2 separate regions of the Homo sapiens genome follow, and region 1 is linked to region 2. Evidence: fine-mapped expression QTL. A gene starts in region 2. The other region holds a variant in brackets. All regions are shown on one strand. Distances are between the middles of the regions. Region 1 has its middle 11 kb from the start of SSU72L3. Region 2 holds the start of TRIM21 (tripartite motif containing 21).

The links. PIP is the estimated chance that this variant, and not a neighbour inherited with it, causes the effect. A credible set is the group of variants that fine-mapping cannot tell apart.
Region 1: its variant is the best candidate, but not a certain one, in a credible set for the expression of TRIM21 in whole blood (INTERVAL, PIP 0.81).

The regions. Positions count from the first base shown.
Region 1 is chr11:4,313,038-4,324,084 of GRCh38, forward strand. No RefSeq gene overlaps it. Among named protein-coding and RNA genes, the nearest start is that of SSU72L3, 11 kb to the right of the region's middle. The variant G/C (reference allele first, on the strand shown) is at 5,880.
Region 2 is chr11:4,389,972-4,400,790 of GRCh38, forward strand. It overlaps TRIM21 (tripartite motif containing 21), which reads right to left and starts at 3,731. Exons shown (of 7, transcript NM_003141.4): 1 at 3,662-3,731; 2 at 31-487. The coding sequence starts at 438. RefSeq lists enhancers at 3,622-3,831, 3,852-3,911.

The DNA.
Region 1 (11,047 bases), 77 kb before region 2:
ATAAATGGGAAGATAGCCTCTGTTCATGGATTGGGAGAATTAATATTGTTAAAACATCCACACTACCCAAAGCAATCTACAGATTCAGTGTAGTCCCTATCAAAATACCAATGACATTCTTCACAGAGGTAGAAAACACAACCTTAAAATTATTATGGAACCATATAAGACCTTGAATAGCCAAAGCACTCTCAAGTAAAACATGAAAAATAAAATACAAAAACCAAAACTGGAGGTATAATAACACCTGACTTCAAAATATACTACAAAATATATTATAAAGCTATAGTAATTAAAACAGCAAGGTACTAACGTTAACAAAAGGACACAAAGACCAATGGAGCAGACTAAAGAGCCTAGGTATAATTCCACACATTTACTGTCAATTGACTTTTGCCAAAGGTGGCAAGAACAGACAAGGGGGACAATCAGTGTCTTTAATAAATGGTATTGGGATAACTCAATATCCACAAACAAAAGAATAAAATTAGATCCTTATCTCACTCTACATACAAAAATTACATCAAAATGGATTAAAGGCTTAACTGTAAGACTAGAAACTTTAAAACAGCTAGTAGAAAATGGGGGAAAAGCTTCATGACATTGGTCTGGGCAACAATTTTTTGAATAAGAATCCAAAAGCATAGGCAACAAAAATGAAAATTGGCAGAATTATTTGAAACTAGAAAAACTTCTGCATAGGCAGGAAATAACAGAAGAAAAAGGCAATCTATGGAATGGGAGAAAATATTTGCAAACCTTTATCTGATAAGGGGTTAATAGCCAAAATATATAAATAATTCCAACAACCCAATAGTAGGGAATAAACTTCTTAAAAAATGGGCAAAGCACCTAAATAGGCAATTCTCAAATAAGACATACAAATGGCCCATAGGTAAATGAAGAAAAGAAAAAGGTCAACAAAATTAATCATCAGGGAAATGCAAATTAAAACCACAATGAGATATCACCTCATACATGTTAGAATGACTATTAACGAAAAGACAAAAGATAAAAAGTGTTGGAGAGAATGGGGAGAAGGGGAACCCTTGCACATTGTTGGTGGGAATGTTAGATAGTATAACTATTATGGAAAACAGTATGGACAGTCATAAAAAAATTAAAAATAGAACTAGCTATGATCCAGCAATCTCACTACTGTGTATATATCCAAATATATGAAATCAGTACGTTGAAGACTCTAACTTCTAGTTCAAGTCCAAGGAACCCCTCTCATCACTCCATTTGCAGAGGAAAAACAATTCAAATATGAGCTGTCCCAGGATGTACAGCAATCGGCTTGTAGTTATAGGGGTAGTGCTTATTGAAAGAGGCTAAGCAAAAATACACTGAGAATAAATGCTGTTTTTTTTTTCCTTTGTCCACTTTTGTATGGGGTAATCATTTCTTTCTTTTTAGAATGGTAAGCTCTAGAGGATAAATATTTGGATGAAGGCCATAGGAAAAGGGGCCACAGAGGCCTGTTTAATAGAGACTTCAGGTCTGAGATACAAATGAGTCCTCCCAGCTCACAGTTGGTAGCTCAGTTCATGACATTATCTAGAGTTTGCACCAACATTCAGCTAGTATTAAAGACTTTGCTCACAACTGTTGCAAGGACAGAAAACCAAACACCACATGTTCTCACTCATAGGTGGGAATTGAACAATGAGAACACTTGGACACAGGGTGGGGAACATCACACACTGGGGCCTGTCTTGGGGTGGGGAGATGGGGGAGCGATAGCATTAGGAGAAATACCTAATGTAAATGATGAGTTAATGGGTGCAACAAACAAACACGGCACAGGTATACATATGTAACAAACCTGCACGTTTTGCGCATGTGCCCTAGAACTTAATGTAAGAAAAAAAAATAATTCTGCTCAGGAGGAACATCTCTGTGTATCTTCTTGCTGAGCCTGTGGTGGTAATAGGTAAGAGGCAGCTACTTGAGCTCCTGGAGTTCTTAGATGCGGGCATCTCTTTTTCAGAAGATGCAACCAATATTTTCTAACAGGACCTGGAGAATCATTTTATTTTAAAATCCCTCATAGTTCCAATGTTTAGATCACCTGTGGTTCTGTCGCTATTTTTTTCCACTTTTTTTTTTAGTTATTTGTTAGTTTCTTGGCATGCTTGGTGTGTGTGAATGGATAGTGATTTTATATGAAAAAACTAGAGACTCTGTTCTCTGAAACTGTTACGTTTCTCTAGAAAGAATTCAGGCAGATAAGGGTACTGGCAGATCTTGATCCATCTGAGAGGACGCTTAACTTTTGCTAGTGCTAGCGTTGATCTTTTTCTGGGTTGTCCTTACTCCTAGAGTACAGCCCTTCTAGTGTTTCAAAGCTTCCTAGTGTTTCAGTGTTTATTTACAAGGGTTGCTCTACCTCCTCAGGCCCTGACCTCCAGCCTCTGACTCCCCAGCACCATCAGACTGCTAGTCTTTGCATAACTGTTTAGCTTCACAGCTGCTGCTTTCAATTCAGGTGCTGAGAATCTTGCCCTGAACATGCACAGCTTAGGAATTGGCAAACTCCTCAAGGGGAATCGGCACGCTGAACTTTGGCCCAATTTTCTCTAAGGCTGCCTCTTCTATCTCAGGTCTCAGACTCCATGGTATCCCTGAACTGCAACTTCTTTATTCCTAGCCTGCTGGGTTTCACTCGCGTCCGTGTGAAGAGACCACCAAACAGGCTTTCCGTGAGCAGCAAGGCTGTTTATTTCACCTGGGTGCAGGCGGGCTGAGTCCGAAAGAGAGTCAGCGAAGGGAGATAGGGGTGGGGCCGTTTTGTAAGATTTGGGTAGGTAAAGGAAAAAGGGGGTTGTTCTCTGGTGGGCAGGAGTGGGGGGTCACAAGGCGCTCAGTGGGGGAGTTTTTGAGCCAGGATGAAGCAGGAGAAGGAATTTCACAAAGTAATGTCATCAGTTAAGGTGAGGACCAGCCATTTTCACTTCTGTTATGGTGGAATGTCATCAGTTAAGGCAGGAACAGGCCATTTAAATATCACTTCTTTTGTGATTCTTTAGTAGCTTCAGGCCCTCTGGATGTATACAAGCAGGTCACAGGGGATATGATGGCTTAGCTTGGGCTCGGAGGCCTGACATTCCTGTCTTCTTATATTAATAAGAAAAATAAAATATAATAGTGTTGAAGTGTTTGGGCAGTGAAAATTTTGGGGGGTGGTATGGATAGATAATGGGCGATGTTTCTCAGGGATGCTTTGATTAGGGGCAGCGTGGGAACCTCGAGTGGGAGAGAGTAAGCTGAAGGAAGATTTTGTGGTAAGGGGTGATATTGTGGGGTTGTTAGAAGAAACATTTTTCGTATAGAATTATTGGTGATGGCCTGGATATGGCTTTGTATGAATTGAAAAAAGAGCAGAATAAGACAGAGAGAACAACAGGTATTAAAGGACTAAGAATTGGGAGAACCCAGGACATTTAACTAGAGAGTGCCTAAGGAGGTTCAGCATAGCCCTGCCAGCAAAGATTATTTACTTTAGGAGGGAGTTAATAATGGCAGTTTGGGGATAGCACCATGAGATATCAGCTGTGATGGCTTGGAGAGACAGTGTAAACCGGCAGTGTAAACAAGAGCAGGGCATTTATGAGTAGTTGAGAATGGTGAATAGGAGTATGACTAGATAGAAGATAGTAGGGAAGACAAGCTTTTTTTTTTTTTTTTTTCGGGGGCGGTCGCAGTCCAAGTTGGTCTGGTGTCTGGAATGAGACTGGGGCCTAATAAAAAGGAGCGTCTACCCCGTCTCTACTAAAAATACAAAAAAAAAAATTAGCCGGGCGCGGTGGCGGGCGCCTGTAGTCCCAGCTACTCGGGAGGCTGAGGCAGGAGAATGGCGTGAACCCGGGAAGCGGAGTTTGCAGTGAGCCGAGATTGCGCCACTGCAGTCCGCAGTCCGGCCTGGGCGACAGAGCGAGACTCCGTCTCAAAAAAAAAAAAAAAAAAAAAAAAAAAAAAAAAAAAAAAGGAGCGTCTATAGAGCAGTTCAAATGGGCTGTACCCTGCAGCATTCTGAGGACAGGCCTGAATTCTGAGAAGGGCAAGTGGTAAAAGTATTGCCCATTCCTTTTTAAGTTGGTGACTGAGCTTGGTGAGGTGAGTTTTTAAAAGACCATTAGTTCACTGAACACTAAGAGCCTGAGAAACTGCTTGGGTGATTTGACTAACAAAGGCCGGTCCGTTATCGGACTGTATAGAGGTGGGAAGCCCAAACTGAGGAATTATGTCTGACAGAAGGGAAGAAATGACTGCGGTGGCCTTCTTAGACCCTGTGAGAAAGGCCTCTACCTATCCAGTGAAAGTATCTACCTAGACCAAGAGGTATCTGAGTTTCCTGACTCGGGGCATGTTGAGTAAAGCCAATTTGCCAGTCCTGGGCGGGGGCAAATCCCCGAGCTTGATGTGTAGGGAAGGGAGGGGGCCTGAATGATCCCTGAGGAGTAGTAGAATAGCAGATGGAACACTGAGAAGTGATTTCCTTGAGGATAGATTTCCACGATGGAAAGGAAATGAGAGGTTCTAAGAGTTGGGCTGTTGGCTTGTTCTATAGCATAGCCTGCCTTTGCTGGTGTGTGGCGATTAGGCCTGGTGGAACTGCCATCAATAAATCAAGCGTGATCAGGGTGAGGAACAGGAAAGAAGGAAATATGGGGAAATGGGGTGAATGTCAGGTGGATCAGAGAGATACAGTCATGAGGGTCAGGTGTGGTATCCGGAATAATGCGGGAGGCCAGATTGAAGTCTGGGCCGGGAACAATGGTAATTGTGGGAGACTCAACAAAGAGTGAGTATCGCTGAAGGAGCCGGGAAGCAGAAAGTATATGCATCAGGTGTGAGGAAGAAAATAGGTTTTGGAAGTTATAAGAAGTATAGAGAGTGAGTTGAGCATAGTTTGTGGTTTTGAGGGCCTCTAAAATTATTAAAGCAGTGGCAGCCACTGCACGCAGACATGAGGGCTAGGCAAAACAGTAAGGTCAAGTTTTTTGGACAGAAAGGCTACAGGGTGCGGTCCTGGCTCTTGTGTAAGAATTCTGACTGCACTAACCATGCCTAGGAAGGAAAGGAGTTGTTGTTTTGTAGAAGGGATTGAGGTTTGGGAGATTAGTTGGACATGATCAGCAGGGAGAGCACGTGTGTTTTTATGAGAATTATGCCGAGATAGGTAACAGATGAGGATGAAATTTGGGCTTGACTGAAGCAATGGGAGCTGTCTGTGAAGGCTTGTGGCAGTACAGCCCAGGTAATTTGCTGAGCCTGATTGGTGTCAGGGTCAGTCTAAGTGATGAAGGGTGCAAAGGGATAGTAAAGAAAGCATGTTTGAGATCCAGACAGAATAATGGGTTGTGGAGGGAGGTATTGAGGATAGGAGAGTATATGGGTTTGGCACCACGGGGTGGAGAGGCAAAACAATTTGGTTGATAAGGCACAGATCCTGAACTAACCTGTAAGAAAGACTTGTCTGGTTCTAGGACAGGTGAAATGGGGGAACTGTAAGGGGAGTTTATAGGCTTTAAAAGTCCATGCTGTAGCAGGTGTGTGATAACAGGCTTTAATCCTTTTAAAGCGTGCTGTGGGATAGGATATTGGCGTTGAGGCGGGTAAGGGTGATTAGGTTTTAATAGGATGGTAATGGTCATGTGATCGGTTGCCAGGAAGGGAGTAGAGATGTCTTATACTTGTGGGTTAAGGTGGGGGGATACGAGAGGAAGATACAAAGGAGGCTTTGGGTTGGGAAGAAGGGCGGCAATGAGATGTAGCCCAGGAATAGACAGGGAAGCAGATAATTTAATTAAAATGTCTCGGCCTAATAAGGGAGCTGGGCAGGTGGGGATAATGAAAAAGGAGTGCTTAAAAGA[G/C]TATTGTCTAAGTTGGCACCAGAGTTGGGGAGTTTTAAGAGGTTTAGAGGCCTGGCAGTCAATACCTGCAACAGTTATGGAGGCAAGGGAGACAGGCTCTTGAAAAGAAGGTAATGTGGAGTGGGTAGCCTCCTTATTGATTAAGAAGGGGATGGACTTACCTTCCATTGTGAGAGTTACCCAGAGCATCTGTGATGGTCCTGTAGGCTTCCGAGGTGATCGGGCAATGTCAGTCTTCAGCTGCTAAGCCGAGAAGATCTGGGAAGGAGTCAGAGAGCCTTGGGCCAGAGTTCCAGGGGTTCTGGAAGTGGCTGCCAGGTGAGTTGAACAGTTTGATTTTCACTGGGGTCTCGCACAGATGGGACACGGCTTAGGAGGAATCCTGGGATGTGGGCATTCCTTGGCCTAGTGGCCAGATTTCCAGCACTTGTAGCAAGCTCCTGGGGGAGGAGGTTCTGGAGGAACCCCCGGCAGCAGCAGTTCAGGCATTTGGAGTTCTTGTGTGCTGGAGATGTGGCTGGGGTTTCGCTCACAGTGGAGGCAAGGAATTGCAACTCAGAAATATGTTGCTACTTGGCTGCCTCTACTCTATTATTGTACACCTGGAAGGCGAGGTTAATTAGATCCTGTTGTGGGGTTTGAGGGCCGGAATTTAATTTTTGAAGTTTTTTCCTAATGTTGGGAGTGGACTGGGTGATAAAATGCATATTAAGAATAAGGCGGCCCTCTGGCCCTTCTGGGTCTAGGGCAGTAAAGCGTCTAAGGGTCACTGCTAAGTGGGCCATGTACTGGGCTGGGTTTTCATCTTTACCTTGGGTAGTTTCTTTCAGCTTGTCATAATTAACAGCTTTGTAAGCTGCCTTTTAAAGCCGTTCAATTAGGCGGGAAATCATGTAATCTCACCTAGCTATACCTGGGGAATCTGCCTGATAGTTCCATTGGGGATCCTCTCGAGGAACTGCTCTAATACCTTCCTGGAGGTCTGGCTCATGAAGCCGGTGGTTATCAGCATGAGATTGGGCTAGAGAAAAAACTCATTCTCGTTCACCTGGGGAGAGGGTAGAAGTCAGGATGACATTTAAGTCACTCCAGGTTAAATTGTAGGACAGAGTAAGATATTGGAATTCCTGTATGTATTTAGTGGGGTCTGATGAGAAAGAGCCTAAACGCTGACTGATCTGAGAGAGGTCTGATAGAGAAAAAGGTACATGTACCCTGACTATGCCTTCAGCTGCAGCCACTTCTCTAAGAGGAAATTGTTGGGCAGGTGGGGAAGAGCTAGTCACGGAACTAAACTGTAAGCTGGACTGGGTGTGAAGAGGGGAGGTGATAGAAGGATTACAGGGTGGAGGAGTGGAGGCTGAGGAAGAATGGGGACCTGGCTTGGCCTGGCGAGGAGCAGCCTGGGGAGGAGGGGAGAAGTCAGATGGGTCTGTAGAAAAGGAAGATTAGAAAGACTCAACTATGCTTGGGATTGGGACTGAGAGGACAGGAGGGAGGGAAAGAAGGAGTATTTGGGATGAGTCACACTGGGAACAGAGACTAGGGAAGGAACAATGTGTAAAAGAATGCCTGGACATCAGGCACCTCAGATCATTTGCCTATTTTACGGTAAGAATTATGTAGATCTTGTAGGATGGAAAAATCGAAAGTGCTGTTTTCTGGCTATTTGGAAACACTGTTGAGTTTGTATTGGGGTCAGGCGGCATTGTAGAATAAAATAAGGCATTTAGGTTTAGGTCAGGTGTGAGTTGAAGAGGTTTTAAGTTCTTGAGAACACAGGCTAAGGGAGAAGAAGGAGGAATGGAGGGTGAAAGGCTGCCCATAGTGAAGGAGGCAAGCCCAGAGAAAAGAGAGAGTAGAGACATGGAGAGAAGGGGTGGGGGGTGCTTGCACCCAGGAAAGTGGAGAAGGGGTAGAGACATGGAGAGAAGGGGTTGGGGGGTTTTTGCCACCCAGAAAAGCAGAGAAGGGGTAGAGACACGGAGAGAAGGGGTGGGGGGTTCTTGCCCTCCAGAAAAGCGGAGAAGGGGTAGAGACACGGAGAGAAGGGGTGGGGGGTTCTTGCCCCCCAGAAAAGTGGTACTTGCCACTAAGGGCGAAAGACCAAGGCAGGCATCCCTGTGTGGTCAGACACCTCTGAAACGTGGATGAATAATCAGGTGTCCCCGTGTGATTAAACACCAAGGGAAGACTGTCTTCCCGAGTCCATGACCGGCGCTGAAGTTTTGGGTCCACGGATAAAACTCATCTCCTGTCTGTAGGAGAAAAGTAAAGAAACTGAAATTAAGAGAAGGGAGAGATTGAAGTGTGGTGCCAAGATTGAAAGGAGCAAGAAGTTGAGGGATAGTGAGAGAGGTTGGAGAAGAGAGTAAAAAGAGGCCACTTACCTGATTGAAAATTGGTGTGATGTTCCTTGGGCTAGTTGGTCTGAGGACATGAGGTCGTAAGTGGATCTTTCTCACAGAGTGAAAGGCAGGAGGACACGGGATTGATCTCCCAAGGGAGGTCCCCTGATCCGAGTCATGGCACCAAAATTTCATTCACGTCTGTGTGAAGAGACCACCAAACAGGCTTTGCGTGAGCAACAAGGCTGGTTATTTCACCTGGGTGCAGGCAGGCTGAGTCCGAAAAGAGTGTCAGCGAAGGGAGATAGGGGTGGGGCCGTTTTATAAGATTTGGGTAGGTAAAGGAAAAAGGGGGTTGTTCTCTGGTGGGCAGGAGTGGGGGCTCACAAGGTGCTCAGTGGGGGAGTTTTTGAGCCAGGATGAGCCAGGAGAAGGAATTTCACAAAGTAATGTCATCAGTTAAGGCAAGGACAGGCCATTTTGTTTTCTTTTGTGGTGGAATGTCATCAGTTAAGGCAGGAAGAGGCCATTTAAATATCACTTCTTTTGTGATTCTTCAGTTGCTTCAGGCCCTCTGGATGTATACATGCAGGTCACAGGGGATATGATGGCTTAGCTTGGGCTCAGAGGCCTGACACTGAGAATGCTACAAGCTCCCACTACCTTTCAACTTGGTCTTTGTTGCACATGCCAGGACTTAGCAAATGCTCTGAGGGCAAAAGCAGAGGCAAATGCAGCTTGCATAGCTGCACTAGTGTACATTCTTTCCAGCAATCTTCCCTTCAAGTCCCACTTGGATTGTTTTTTTCTTTAACAACTTTGGTTGCTTTAAGTATTTTACCTAGCTTCTATGTTTACTATTGATTGGAAGGTTAGTACAAGCTCCTCCATTTTGCTCAGATGTTGGATGTAGTTTCTGCTTATCCACAAGTGTCCCAAAGCCCCAAGGGACTGGTTTAGGATTTATCCTCTGTCACCTGGATGATCACACCAGACTTCTAACTGGTCTCTGCTTATAGGCTTACCCTTTCCAATCCATGCTAACTCAGGAAAATGATACATCGGTTGTATTTTTCCAAAATTTCTTATAGTATACATTTCTCAGATAATAAACTATGGCTTCTGGCTTCCCCTCTCTACCTACAGTGCTGCAGACTTGGTTCAAAAATTAGGAACTGGCAAGCCATGCTTTGGGAGGCCCAAGTGGGAGGATTGCCTGAGGTTAGGAGCTCGAGACCTGCCTGGCCAACATAGTGAGACCCCATCTCTAGAAAAAAAAATGAGCTTGGCATGGTGGTACACTCATATAGTTCTAGCTACTTAGGAGGCTGAGGATCACTGGATTCCAGGAGTTCAAGGCTGCAGTGAGCTTTGATTGTGCCACTGTACTCCAGAGTAGGTGACAGAGCAAGACCTTGTCTCTAAAAAACAAAACACAATTAAGAACTGAATTCCTAAAGTATCCAGGTACTGTATGAGCAGTGAGCCAAGATGAATATGCACAGTTCTGGTCATTGAGTCTAGTATAATGAGGATGCTAGAACTATGAAAGATAACCTCAAAGTTGTAATTTTTATGATGTAATCATGCCCCTGACACTACAGGAGCCTAGATAATGGCATGGGCCTAGTTAGTACAATCCCCTTGCTGGGCTAGAGTCAGCAATGAGCTGTAATAGGAAGTCATTGTCTGTCAATACTGACACAAGGAACATTTACCGAGCATTTACTATGTTCTAGGAACTTTTCTGGCTGATCTGGAAGGGCAGATAAAGAAGTCTACCTTTTGCCCTCAAGGGGTTTGCAGTCTATTAGGAGACAACCCTGCCAAACAGTAACATACCAGGTTGTTTGAAACACATCAACAACAAAACAACAACGCCAAACAAAACAGAAACAGGAGCAAATCTATTTTTTTAAAGAGTTGAGAAGAATAGCACAAATACATAAAATGAAAAAGAAGAACAATCTTCAAAATAGAAAATGGATTTTATTATGAATTATTATAAATAAACTTCACAAAACAAGGTGTACAAATGTACCATAAACACATGAGGTGATGCTCAGCATCTTTAGTCATCAGGGAAATGCAAACCAAAATCCCAAAATTCCACTCAGAAACACTAAATGGCTAAAATAGAAAAGGTGAGAAAGAATGAATGTTGGTGAAGTTGTGGAACAATGGGGACGCTGATGCTGGGAATGTAAACTGATTAAACCACTTTGGAAAAAAAACTTGGCAATTCTTAGGAAGTTCAACATATATTTATCCTATAGCCCAGACATTTCAGTCTTAGGTACTCACCCAAGAGAAACTGGTTGCTTGAGGGCCTGAAGGGAGAACTGGTAGGGGGTGCTTTATGAGTGTTGTCAGTTAGGCCCTGGGCTTGCGATCCGAGGAGGGAAGAGGAGAGAGGCTGATTTTGGTATCCTGAGATTCTTCATGGACCCAAGAAGCCAAAGTGAAATCCTGAAGTGGGTTGAAGGGGACCAGGAATCTCAAAGGCTTTATTTAGGTGCATCTGAAGAGATCTGCTGCTTGCTTTGTTCTTTACTACCAGACTTGGGCCAACAGAGACCACTTTGTCTTCTAGCATCTCTGGGACTGCTCCTGTTAGGGGAAGAAGGTATCTGAGTTACCTAAGGTGAATCCATACGGGTCTGCAGCAACCTCAGTTCTTATCTCTTCAGAGCAGCAAGAATTCGACTAAGAGGCATAAGGCAAAAAAAGACCGAGGCAAGTCTCAGAGCAGGAGTGGAAGCTTATTAAACAGCTTTAGAGCAGAAAGTAAAGTACACTTGGAAGAGACTCCAGTGGGTG
Region 2 (10,819 bases):
AGCACTCACCAGGTGTCTCTTAGGCCTCACCTGGTACTCCTGTGCAGCCTCCTCAAGAGGGACCATGGCGTGGTCACGGTGTTTCCGAGACTGGGCACATACCCAGCAAAGGGCCTTCCCATCTTTCTCACAGAACAGGTGAAGTCTCTCTCCATGCACTGCACACCGTTCCCCCTGTGTGCCCTCTCTGGCCTCCTGGCTGATTTCTTTAAGGTTGTTCACCATGTTGGCTAGCTGTCGATTGGGCCGGAGATTCTTGAGCAGAAAGCGCTGCCGGCACACAGGACAGACGCTGCCCCCACCTTTCCCAACCTGAGAGATGCATTCCTGGCAGAAGCTGTGGCCACACTCGATGCTCACAGGCTCCACGAAGGGGTCCAGGCAGATAGGGCATGTGACCTCCTCCCACATCATTGTCAAGCGTGCTGCTGAAGCCATTGTCAAGTGTGCCGTTAAACAGCAGTGTGGAGACCTTTAGGGGGTTTGGCTGGGAGAGAAGAAGAAAGGGAAAAGAGAATATGAGAAAGTCTGTGTAAGAAAAACAAAAAGTCAACATAATCCCTATCAAAATACCAATGACATTCTTCACAAAAATAGGAAAAAACAATCCTAAAATTTATATGGAATCACAAAAGACTCAGAATAGCCAAAGCTATCCTGAGCAAAAAGAACAAAACTGGAGGAATCACATCATCTGACGTCAAATTATACTGTAGAGCTAAAGTAACCCAAACAGCATGGTACTGGCATAAAAACAGACACATAGACCAGTAGAATAAAGAACCCAGAAACAAATCTGTACATCCACAGTGAGCACATTTTCAACAAAGCTACCAAGAACATACAGTGAGGAAAGGACAGTCTCTTCAATAAATGCTGCTGGGAAAACTGGATATCCACATGCAGAAGAATGAAACTACACTCCTATGTCTCACCGTATACAGAAATCAAATCAAAATGGATTAAAGACTTAAATCTAAGGCCTCAAACTATGAAACTATTATAAGAAAACATTGGGAAAACTCTCTAGGACATTGGACTGGGCAAAGATTTCTTTCAAATATCCCACAAGCACAGGCAGCCAAAGCAAACTTGGACAAATGGGATCACATCATGTTGAAAAGGTGCTGCACAGCAAAAGAAACAATCCACAAAGTGAAGAGACAGCCCACAGAATTGGAGTAAATATTTGTAAACTATCCATCTGACAAGGGATGAATAACCAGAATATATAAGGAGCTCAAACAACTCTATAGGAAAAAAAATAATAATCTGACTCAAAAATGGACAAAAGATCTGAACAGACATTTCTCAAAAGAAGTCATACAAATGACAAACAGGCATATGAACAGTTGCTCAACATCATTGATTATCAGAAAAATGCAAATCAAAACTACAATGAGATATAATCTCATCTCAGTTAAAATGTCTTTTCTCCAAAAGACAGGCTATAACAAATGCTGGTGAGGGTGTGGAGAAAAGGGTACACTCATATGCTGTTGGTGGGAAGGTAAATTAGTACAATCACTACAGAGAACAGTTTGGAGGTTCTTCAAAATACTGAAGATAGAGCTACCATATGATCCATCAATCCCACTGCTAGCATATACCCCAAAGAAAGGAAATCAGTATATCAAAGAGATATCCACACTTCCATGTTTACTGCAGCACGTTTCACAATAGCCAAGATTTGGAAGCAATCTAAGAGTCCATCAACAGATATATGGATAAAGAAAATGTGGTATGTATACACAATGGAGTACTGTTCAGTCATAAAATATAATGAGATCCTGTCATTCACAACAACATGAATGGAACTGGAGGTCATTATGTTAGGTGAAATAAGCCAGGCACAGAAACACAAACATTGTATGGTCTCACTCATTTGTAGAAGCTAAAAATTAAAACAATTGAACTCATGGAGTTAGATAATAGAAAGATGGTTACCAGAGGCTGGGAAGAGTAATAGGGAGGGTCTGTGTGTGGGGGAGAAGATGGGATGGTTAATGGGTACAAAAGTGGAGTGAATTAGATCTAGTATTTGATAGTACAACAGGGTGACTATAGTCAATAATTTAATTGTACATTAAAAATAAGAGTATAATTGCATAGTTTGTATTACAGATGATCAATGCTTGAGGTGATAGATGCCCCACTTACCCTGATGTGATTATTACACATTGTATACCTGTATCACAATATTCCATATACCCATAAATATACCTACTATGTGCCCACAAAAATTAAAAATATACTAAAAAAAGAAAAACAAAATGATGCAAAGGAAAATAAAAAATAAGAATAAAAATAATGGGTCAGGCACGGTGGCTCACACCTGTAATCCCAGCACTTTGGGAGGCCGAGGTGGGTGGATCACCTTAGGTCAGGAGTTCAAGACCAGCCTGACCAATATGGTAAAACCCTGTCTCTACTAAAAATACAAAAATTAGCTGGGAGTGGTGGTGGGCACCTGTAATCCCAGCTACTTGGGAGGCTGAGGCAGGAGAATTGCTTGAACCTGGGAGGCAGAGGTTGCAGTGAGCCAAGATTGTGCCATTGCACTCCAGCCTGGGTGACACGGCGAGACTCCCTCTCAAAAACAAAACAAAACAAAACAAGGCATAAAATTAATGGCAAAACAATTAATGTCAAAAACAGTAATTACTTTTGCACCGATCAAACAGTTTGTTGAATAAGTTTATTCCTGTTCTGAATAACAAGAACTCCTCCATTGTTTGGTCCATTGATCCAGTGAGACAGAAGGAGAAACTGAGTCCCTAAAAGAGGGAATGAAAATTGGCAAGAACCTCATAAAGCTGTTGACAGTTCTACTCTCATCATGTCCATTCCTGCTTAAACCCTCAGTGCTCATCCATCTCCTGTCGGGTACCAACAGGCCTCCATGTTGCTGAGAAATTATAGCTACTTTTTACCATGTACCTTCCATGTGCCAGAGATACTTCATGCTTTGAATATATCTTCATTAATCCCTCCTATAACGGCGGAAGTCAGTTGCATATATGTATGTAGGTGTATATGTATGTATACACACAGAGTAACAGGAACCGTGGCCAGCACTCCCTGGGCTCTTTTCTCAGCTGCTCCAAACTTAGTTTAGTTCCTGACAACACTTATTCTAGGACAAAGAATAATTCTGAAGGCCTATACATTTCTGGTTGAACATCCTAAACAGCCTGCCCCTCTCACCTCTGGAGGACTTTTGGACCTGGGAGTCTCCAGAATTGCAGACCTCCCCGACACTGGGCTCCCTACCCTCCTGGCTAGGCTGTAGTCCTGGCTATCCCAGCCACACCCAGCCGTCATCCTAGGTCAGGTGCCAGCATGGGGGCAGCCGGGCCCCTTCCCCTTCTGGGTAACTCCACAGTCACGTCCACAACCCAGCCTCCTCCCAGGTAGGGGGCAGCCGGGCCCCTTCCCCTTCTGGGTAACTCGGCAGTCAGGTCCACACCCCAGCCTCCTCCCAAGCAGGGGGCCAGCACCGGAAGCGCAGCTGGTCTTGGGTTGAGGGATCCCTGGTGGGAGAAGGGGCAAATGGGACCGGCTCAAGGATGGAGACTGGAAGGGGCTCTGCAACCCTGGGGCAGGGGAGAGAGGTCCCCTAGGAGGGCAGGGGTCCCTTGATCTAGTGGGGTTCACTCACCTTTACAGGGGACTCAACGCTGGTAGCCAGCTCCCTATTTCACTTTCAGTTTCCGCTCAGAAGCAAGTCTGAGAGGAAAGGGGAGGGAGGAGGAGGAGCCGTGGGAGGAGTGAGGGAGGAGCAGTGGGAGGAGCAGAGCCTTGAAAGGGTGTGTGGAGAAATGCGGCTGAGAAGAGAAGTCAGAGTTGAGCTGGGGGAGGCTTCAGAGGCTCTGCATGCCCAGGAGGCTTCTCTGAGACTGGGAAGGAGTGGAAACTCAGTAGCCCGTGGTCCTGGTTGCGCGCTCCCTCCCATGTCTTCATTATCTGATTTGGTAAAATATCTACAAGACGGGGGAGTCCGGGCTGCTTTCTTTGACACTGGTCATCACTCCACACCTAGACGCTATGTCCATGTCTGGAAGATGCTTTTAAGGAAGTTTTGATGCAGAGAAGAGTGGCCGGTGCTCTTCCTCGCGTGCCACCATCTGCTTACTTCCAGAAGCTAATTATTTTCATGTGACTGATGTGACTAATATTTTTTAACGCCTGCAGGTGAGTGATTTATTTCGCATGACCCCAAGGTGAGTGTCCCACCAGTGAGTGGTGAGAAGGAAATTGACATTTGACAACCAACTGTGTTCTTGTCACTGAGCTAGGGACATTCTCAGGTTATATTATTTTTATTTTTAATCGTAAAAATATAGAACATAAAATTTACCAAAGTAATTTTTTTAATTTTCAATCTTGTGTGTCTATAGTAGGTGTATATATTTGTGGGGTACATGAAATATTTTGATACAGGTAGAGCATACAATCCGTAATAATCATATCAGGGTAAGTGGGGTATCTATCCATCACCTCAAGCACTTATCATTTGTGTTATATACAATCCAGTTATATGCTTTTAGTTATTTTAAAATGATAAATTATCATTGACTGTATTCACCTTGTTATGCTATAAAATACTAGATCTTATTCATTCTCTCTCATGTATTTTTGAACCCATTAATCATTCCCCACTACCCTTCCCAGCCTTTGGTAACCATCATCCTCTCTATCTTCATGAGTTGGATTGTTTTAATTTTTAACTCCCACAAATAAGTGAGAACATAACAATTTGTTTGTTTGCCTGTGTTTGGTTTATTTTACTTAACATAATAATCCCCAATTCCATCCATCTTGTAGCAAATGAAAGGTTCTCCTTCTTTTTATGGCTGAATAGTGCTCCATTGTGTATGTGTACCACACTTTCCTTATCCATTTATCTGTTGATGGACACTTACGTTGCTTCCAAATCTTGGCTATTGTGAATAGTGCTGCGATAAACATGGGAGTGCAGATATCTCTTTGATATACTGATTTCCTTTCTCTTGGATATATACCTAACAGTATTTCTTCTGGGTATATACCTAGCAGTATCCAGTAGGATTGCTAGATTACATGGTAGCTCTATTTTCAGGTTTTTTTTTTTTTTTGAGGAACCTTCAAATTGTTTGCCATAGTGTTTGTACTAATTTCCATTCCCATTGACAGTGTATGAGGGTTCCCTTTTCTACATATCCTTGCCAGCATTTGTTATTGCCTTTCTTTTGGTTAAAAGACATTTTAACTGAGGTGAGATAATATCTCGTAGTTTTGATTTGCATTTCTCTGATGATCAGTGGTGTTGAACACATTTTCATATATCCATTTGCCACTTGTATGTCTTCTTCTGAGGAATGTCTATTCAGATCGTTTGTCCATTTTTGAATCAGATTATTATATTTTTTTCCTATAGAGTTGTTTGAGTTCTTTGTATATTCTGGTTATTAATCCCTTGTCAGATGGATAGTTTGCAAATATTTACTCCAATTCTGTGGGTTATCTCTCTACTTCATTGTTTCCTTTGCTGTGCAGAAGCTTTTTAACTTGATGTGATCTCATTTGTCCAGTTTTGCTTTGGTTGCCTGTGCTTATGGAATATTTGAAAGAAATTTTTGCCCAGTCCAATGTCCTGGAGAGTTTCCCCAATATTTTCTTGTAGTAGTTTCATAGTTTGAGGCCTTAGATTTTTTTTTAAATTATACTTTAAGTTCTAGGGTACATGTGCACAACATGCAGGTTTGTTACATATGTATACACGTGCCATGTTGGTGTGCTGCACCCATTAACTCATTTACATTGGATATATCTCCTGATGCTATCCCTCCCCCCTCCCCCCACCCCAGGACAGGCCTCAGTGTGTGATGTTCCCCTTCCTGTGTCCATGTGTTCTCATTGTTCAATTCCCACCTATGAGTGAGAACATGCGGTGTTTGGTTTTCTTGTCCTTGCAATAGTTTTCTGAGAATGATGGTTTCCACTTTCATCCATGTCCCTACAAAGGACATGAGCTCATCCTTTTTTATGGCTGCATAGCATTCCATGGTGTATATGTGCCACATTTTCTTCATCCAGTCTATCATTGTTGGACATTTGGGTTGGTTCCAAGTCTTTGCTATTGTGAATAGTGCCACAATAAACATATGTGTGCATGTGTCTTTATATCAGTATGATTTATAATCTTTTGGATATATACCCAGTAATGGGATGGCTGGGTCAAATGGTATTTCTAGTTCTAGATCCTTGAGGAATCACCATACTGTCTTCCACAATGGATGAACTCGTTGACAGTCCCACCAACAGTGTAAAAGTGCTCCTGTTTCTCCATATCCTGTCTATCACCCATTGTTTCCTGACTTTTTAATGATCGCCATTCTAACTGCTGTGAGATAGTATCTCATTGTGGTTTTGATTTGCATTTCTCTGATGGCCAGTGATGATGAGCATTTTTCCATGTGTCTGTTGGCTGCATAAATATCTTCTTTTGAGAAGTGTCTGTTCATATCCTTTGCCCACTTTTTGATGGGGTTGTTTTTTTCTTGTAAATTTGTTTGAGATCTTTGTAGATTCTGGATATTAGCCCTTTGTCAGATGAGTAAATTGCAAAATTTTTCTCCTATTCTATAGGTTGCCCATTCACTCTGATGGTAGTTTCTTTTGCTGTGCAGAAGCTCTTTAATTAGATCCCATTTGTCAATTTTGTCTTTTGTTGCCATTGCTTTTGGTGTTTAAGACATGTAGTCCTTGCCCATGCCTATGTCCTGAATGGTATTGCCTAGGTTTTCTTCTAGGGTTTTTGTGGTTTTAGGTCAGAATAACCAATGCAGAGAAGTCCTTAAAGGACCTGATGGAATGGTGCTATCCAGCCCAGATACTATGCTTTTCCCATGGTCTATGCAACCCACGGACCAGGAGATTCCCTTGGATGCCTACACCACCAGGACCCTGGGTTTGAAGCACAAAACTGGGTGGCTGTTTGGGCAGACACTGAGCTAGCGGCAGGATTTTTCATGCCCCAGTGGCGTCTGGAACACCAGCAAGACAGAACTGTTCACTCCCTTGGAAAGGGGGCTGAAGCCAGGGAGCCAAGTGGTCTAGCTCAGTGGATCCCACCCCCATGGAGCCCAGCAAGCTAAGATCCACGGGTTTGAAATTCTTGCTGCCAGTGCAGCAATCTGAAATTGACCTGAGATGCTTGAGCTTGGTGGAGTGAGGGGCATCCACCATTACTGAGGCTTGAGTAGGCGGTTTTCCCCTCACAGTGTAAACAAAACTGCTGGGAAGTTCGAATTGGGTGGAGCCCACCAAAGCTTCGCAAACCTGCTGTAGCCAGACTGCCTCTCTAGATTCCTCCTCTCTGGGCATGACATCTTGAAAGAAAGGCAGCAGCCCCAGTCAGGGGCTTATAGCTAAAACTCCCATCTCCCTGGGACAGAGCATCTGGGGGAAGGGGTGGCGGTGAGCACAGCTTCAACAGCCTTAAACATTCTTGCTTGCCAGCTCTGAAGAGAGCAGTGGATCTCCCAGGACAGTGCTTGAGCTCTGATAAGGCACAGACTGCCTCCTCAAGTGGGTCCCTGACCCCTGTGCCTCCAGACTGGGAGACACTTCCCAGGAGGGGTCAACAGACACCTCATACAGGAGAGCTCTGGTTGGCATCTGGCGGGTGCCCCTCTGGGACAAAGCTTCCAGAGGAAGGAACAGGCAGCAATCTTTGCTGTTCTGCAGCCTCTGCTGGTGATACCCAGGCAAACAGGGTCTGGAGTGGACCTCCAGCAGACCTGTAGCAGAGGGACCTGTTAGAAGGAAAACTAACAAACAGAAAGCAATAGCGTCAACCTCAACAAAAAGAATGTCCACACAAAAACCCCATCCAGAGGTCACCAATATCAAAGACCAAAGGTAGATAAATCCATGAAGATGAGGAAAAACCAGTGCAAAAAGGCTGAAAATTCCAAAAAACAGCACACCTCTTCTCCTGCAAAGAATCACAACTCCTTGCCAGCAAGGGAACAAAACTGGATGGAAAATGAGTTTGATGAATTGACAGAAGTAGGCTTCAGAAGGTGGGTAATAAGAAACTCCTCTGTGCTAAAGGAGCATGTTCTAACCCAATGCAAGGAAGCTAAGAAACTTGAAAAAAGGTTAGAGGAATTGCTAACTAGAATCATCAGTTTAGAGAAGAAGATAAATGACCTGATGGAGTTGAAAAACATAGCATGAGAACTTCATGAAGCATACACAAGAATCAATAGCCGAATTGATCAAGAGGAAGAAAGGATATCAGAGATTGAAGATCAACTTAATGAAATAAAGCATCAAGACAAGATTAGAGAAAAAAGAATGAAAAGGAACAAGCAAAACCTCCAAGAAATATGGACTATGTGAAAAGACCAAACCTCCATTTGATTGGTGTACCTGAAAGTGACAGGGAGAATGGAACCAAGTTGGAAAACAGTCTTCATGATACTGTCCAGGAGAACTTCCCCAACCTAGCAAGACAGGCCAACATTCAAATTTGGGAAATACAGAGAACACCACAAAGATACTCATCAAGAAGAGCAATCTTAAGACACAATAGTCAGATTCACCAAGGTTGAAATGAAGGAAAAAATGTTAAGGGCAGCCAGAGAGAAGTGTCTGTCCACACAGGGAAGCCCAACAGACTAACAGCGGATCTCTCTGCAGAAACCCTACAAGCCAGAAGAGAGTGGGTGCCAATATCAACATTCTTAAAGAAAAGAATTTTCAGCCCAGAATTTCATATCCAGCCAAACTAAGCTTCAGAAGCAAAGAAGAAATACAAACCTTTATAGACAAGCAAATGCTGAGAGATTTTTGTCACCACCAGGCCTGCCTTACAAGAGCTCCTGAAGGAAGCTCTAAATATGAAAAGGAAAAGCTGGTACCAGCCACTGCAAAAATATACCAAATTGTAAAGACCATTGACACTATGAAGAAACTGCCTCAACTAACAGGCAAAATACCCAGCTAGCATCATAATGACGGGATCAAATTCACACAGATCAATATTAACCTTCAATGTAAACAGGCTAAATGCCCCAATTAAAAGACACAGACTGACAAATTGGATAAAGAGTCAAGAACCATTGGTGTGCTGTATTCAGGAGACCCATCTCATGTGCGACGACACACATAGGCTCAAAATAAAGGGATGGAGGAATATTTACCAAGGAAATAGAAAGCAAAAAAAAAAAAAGCAGAGGGTGCAATCCTAGTCTCTGACAAAACAGACTTTAAACCAACAAAGAACAAAAAAGAAAAAGAAGGGCATTACATAATGGTAAAGGCATCAATGCAACAAAAAGAGCTATCATTAATATATATGCACCCAATACAGGAGCACCCAGATTCATAAAGCAAGTTCTTAGAGACTTACAAAAAGACTTAGACTCCCACACAATGATAGTGGGAGACTTTAACACCCCACTGTCAATATTAGACAGATCAAGGAGACAGGAAATCAACAAGGATATTCAGGACTTGTACTCAGCTCTGGACCAAGCAGACCTAATAGACATCTACAGAACTCTCCACCCCAAATCAGAGAATATACATTCTTCCCTGCACCACATTGATTGTACTATTCTAAAATTTACCACATAATTGGAAGTAAAACACTCCTCAGGAAATGCAAAAGCATGGAAATCATAACAGTCTCTCAGACCACAGTGCAGTCAAATTAGTACTCAGGATTAAGAAACTCACTCAAAACCACCCAACTACATGGACACTGAACAAACTGCTCCTGAATGAATACTGGGTAAATAATGAAATTAAGTCAGAAATAAATAAGTTCTTTGAAACCAATGTGAACAAAGACACAAAGTACCAGAATCTCTGGGACACAGCTAAAGCAGTGTTTGAGGCAAATTTATAGCACTAAAATGCCCACAGGAGAAAGCAGAAAAGATCTAAAATTGACACCTTAACATCACATTGAAAATAACTAGAGAAGCAAGAGCAAACAAATTCAAAAGCTAGCAGAGGCAAGAAATAACTAAGATCAGAGAAGAACTGAAGGAGATAGAGACATGAAAAACCCTTCAAAAAAAATCAGTGAGTCCAGGAGCTGGTTTTCTTGAAAAGATTAACAAAATAGATAAACTGCTAGCCAGACTAATAAAGAAGAAAAGAGAGAAGAATCAAACAGATGCAATAAAAAATGATTAAGGGGCTATCACCACTGATCCCACAGAAATACAAAGTACTATCAGAGAATATTGTAAACACCGCTATGCAAATAAACTAAAAAATCTACAAGAAATGGATAAATTCCTGGACACATACACCATCCCAAGACTAAACCAGGAAGAAGTCGAATCCCTGAATAGACCAATAACAAGTTCTGAAATTGAGGCAGTAATTAGTAGCCTACCAACCAAAAAAAGCCCAGGACCAGATGGAGTCACAGCTGAATTACACCAGAGGTACAAAGAGGAGCTGGTATCATTCTTCTGAAACTATCCCAAACATTAGAAAAAGGGGAACTCCTCCCTAACTCATTTTGTGAGGCCAGCATCATCCTGATACCAAAACCTGGCAGAGAAACAACAAAAAAAAAATTTCAGGCCAATACCCTGATGAACATCAATGAGAAAATCCTTAGTAAAATACTTATAAACCAAATCCAGCAGCACATCAAAAAGCTTATCCACCATGATCAAGTTGGCTGCATCCCTGGGATGCAAGGTTGGTTCAACATACACAAATCAGTAAACATAACCCATCACACATTAATATTCTCTGATGGTAGTTTGTATTTCTGTGGGATCAGCGCTGATATCCCCTTTAT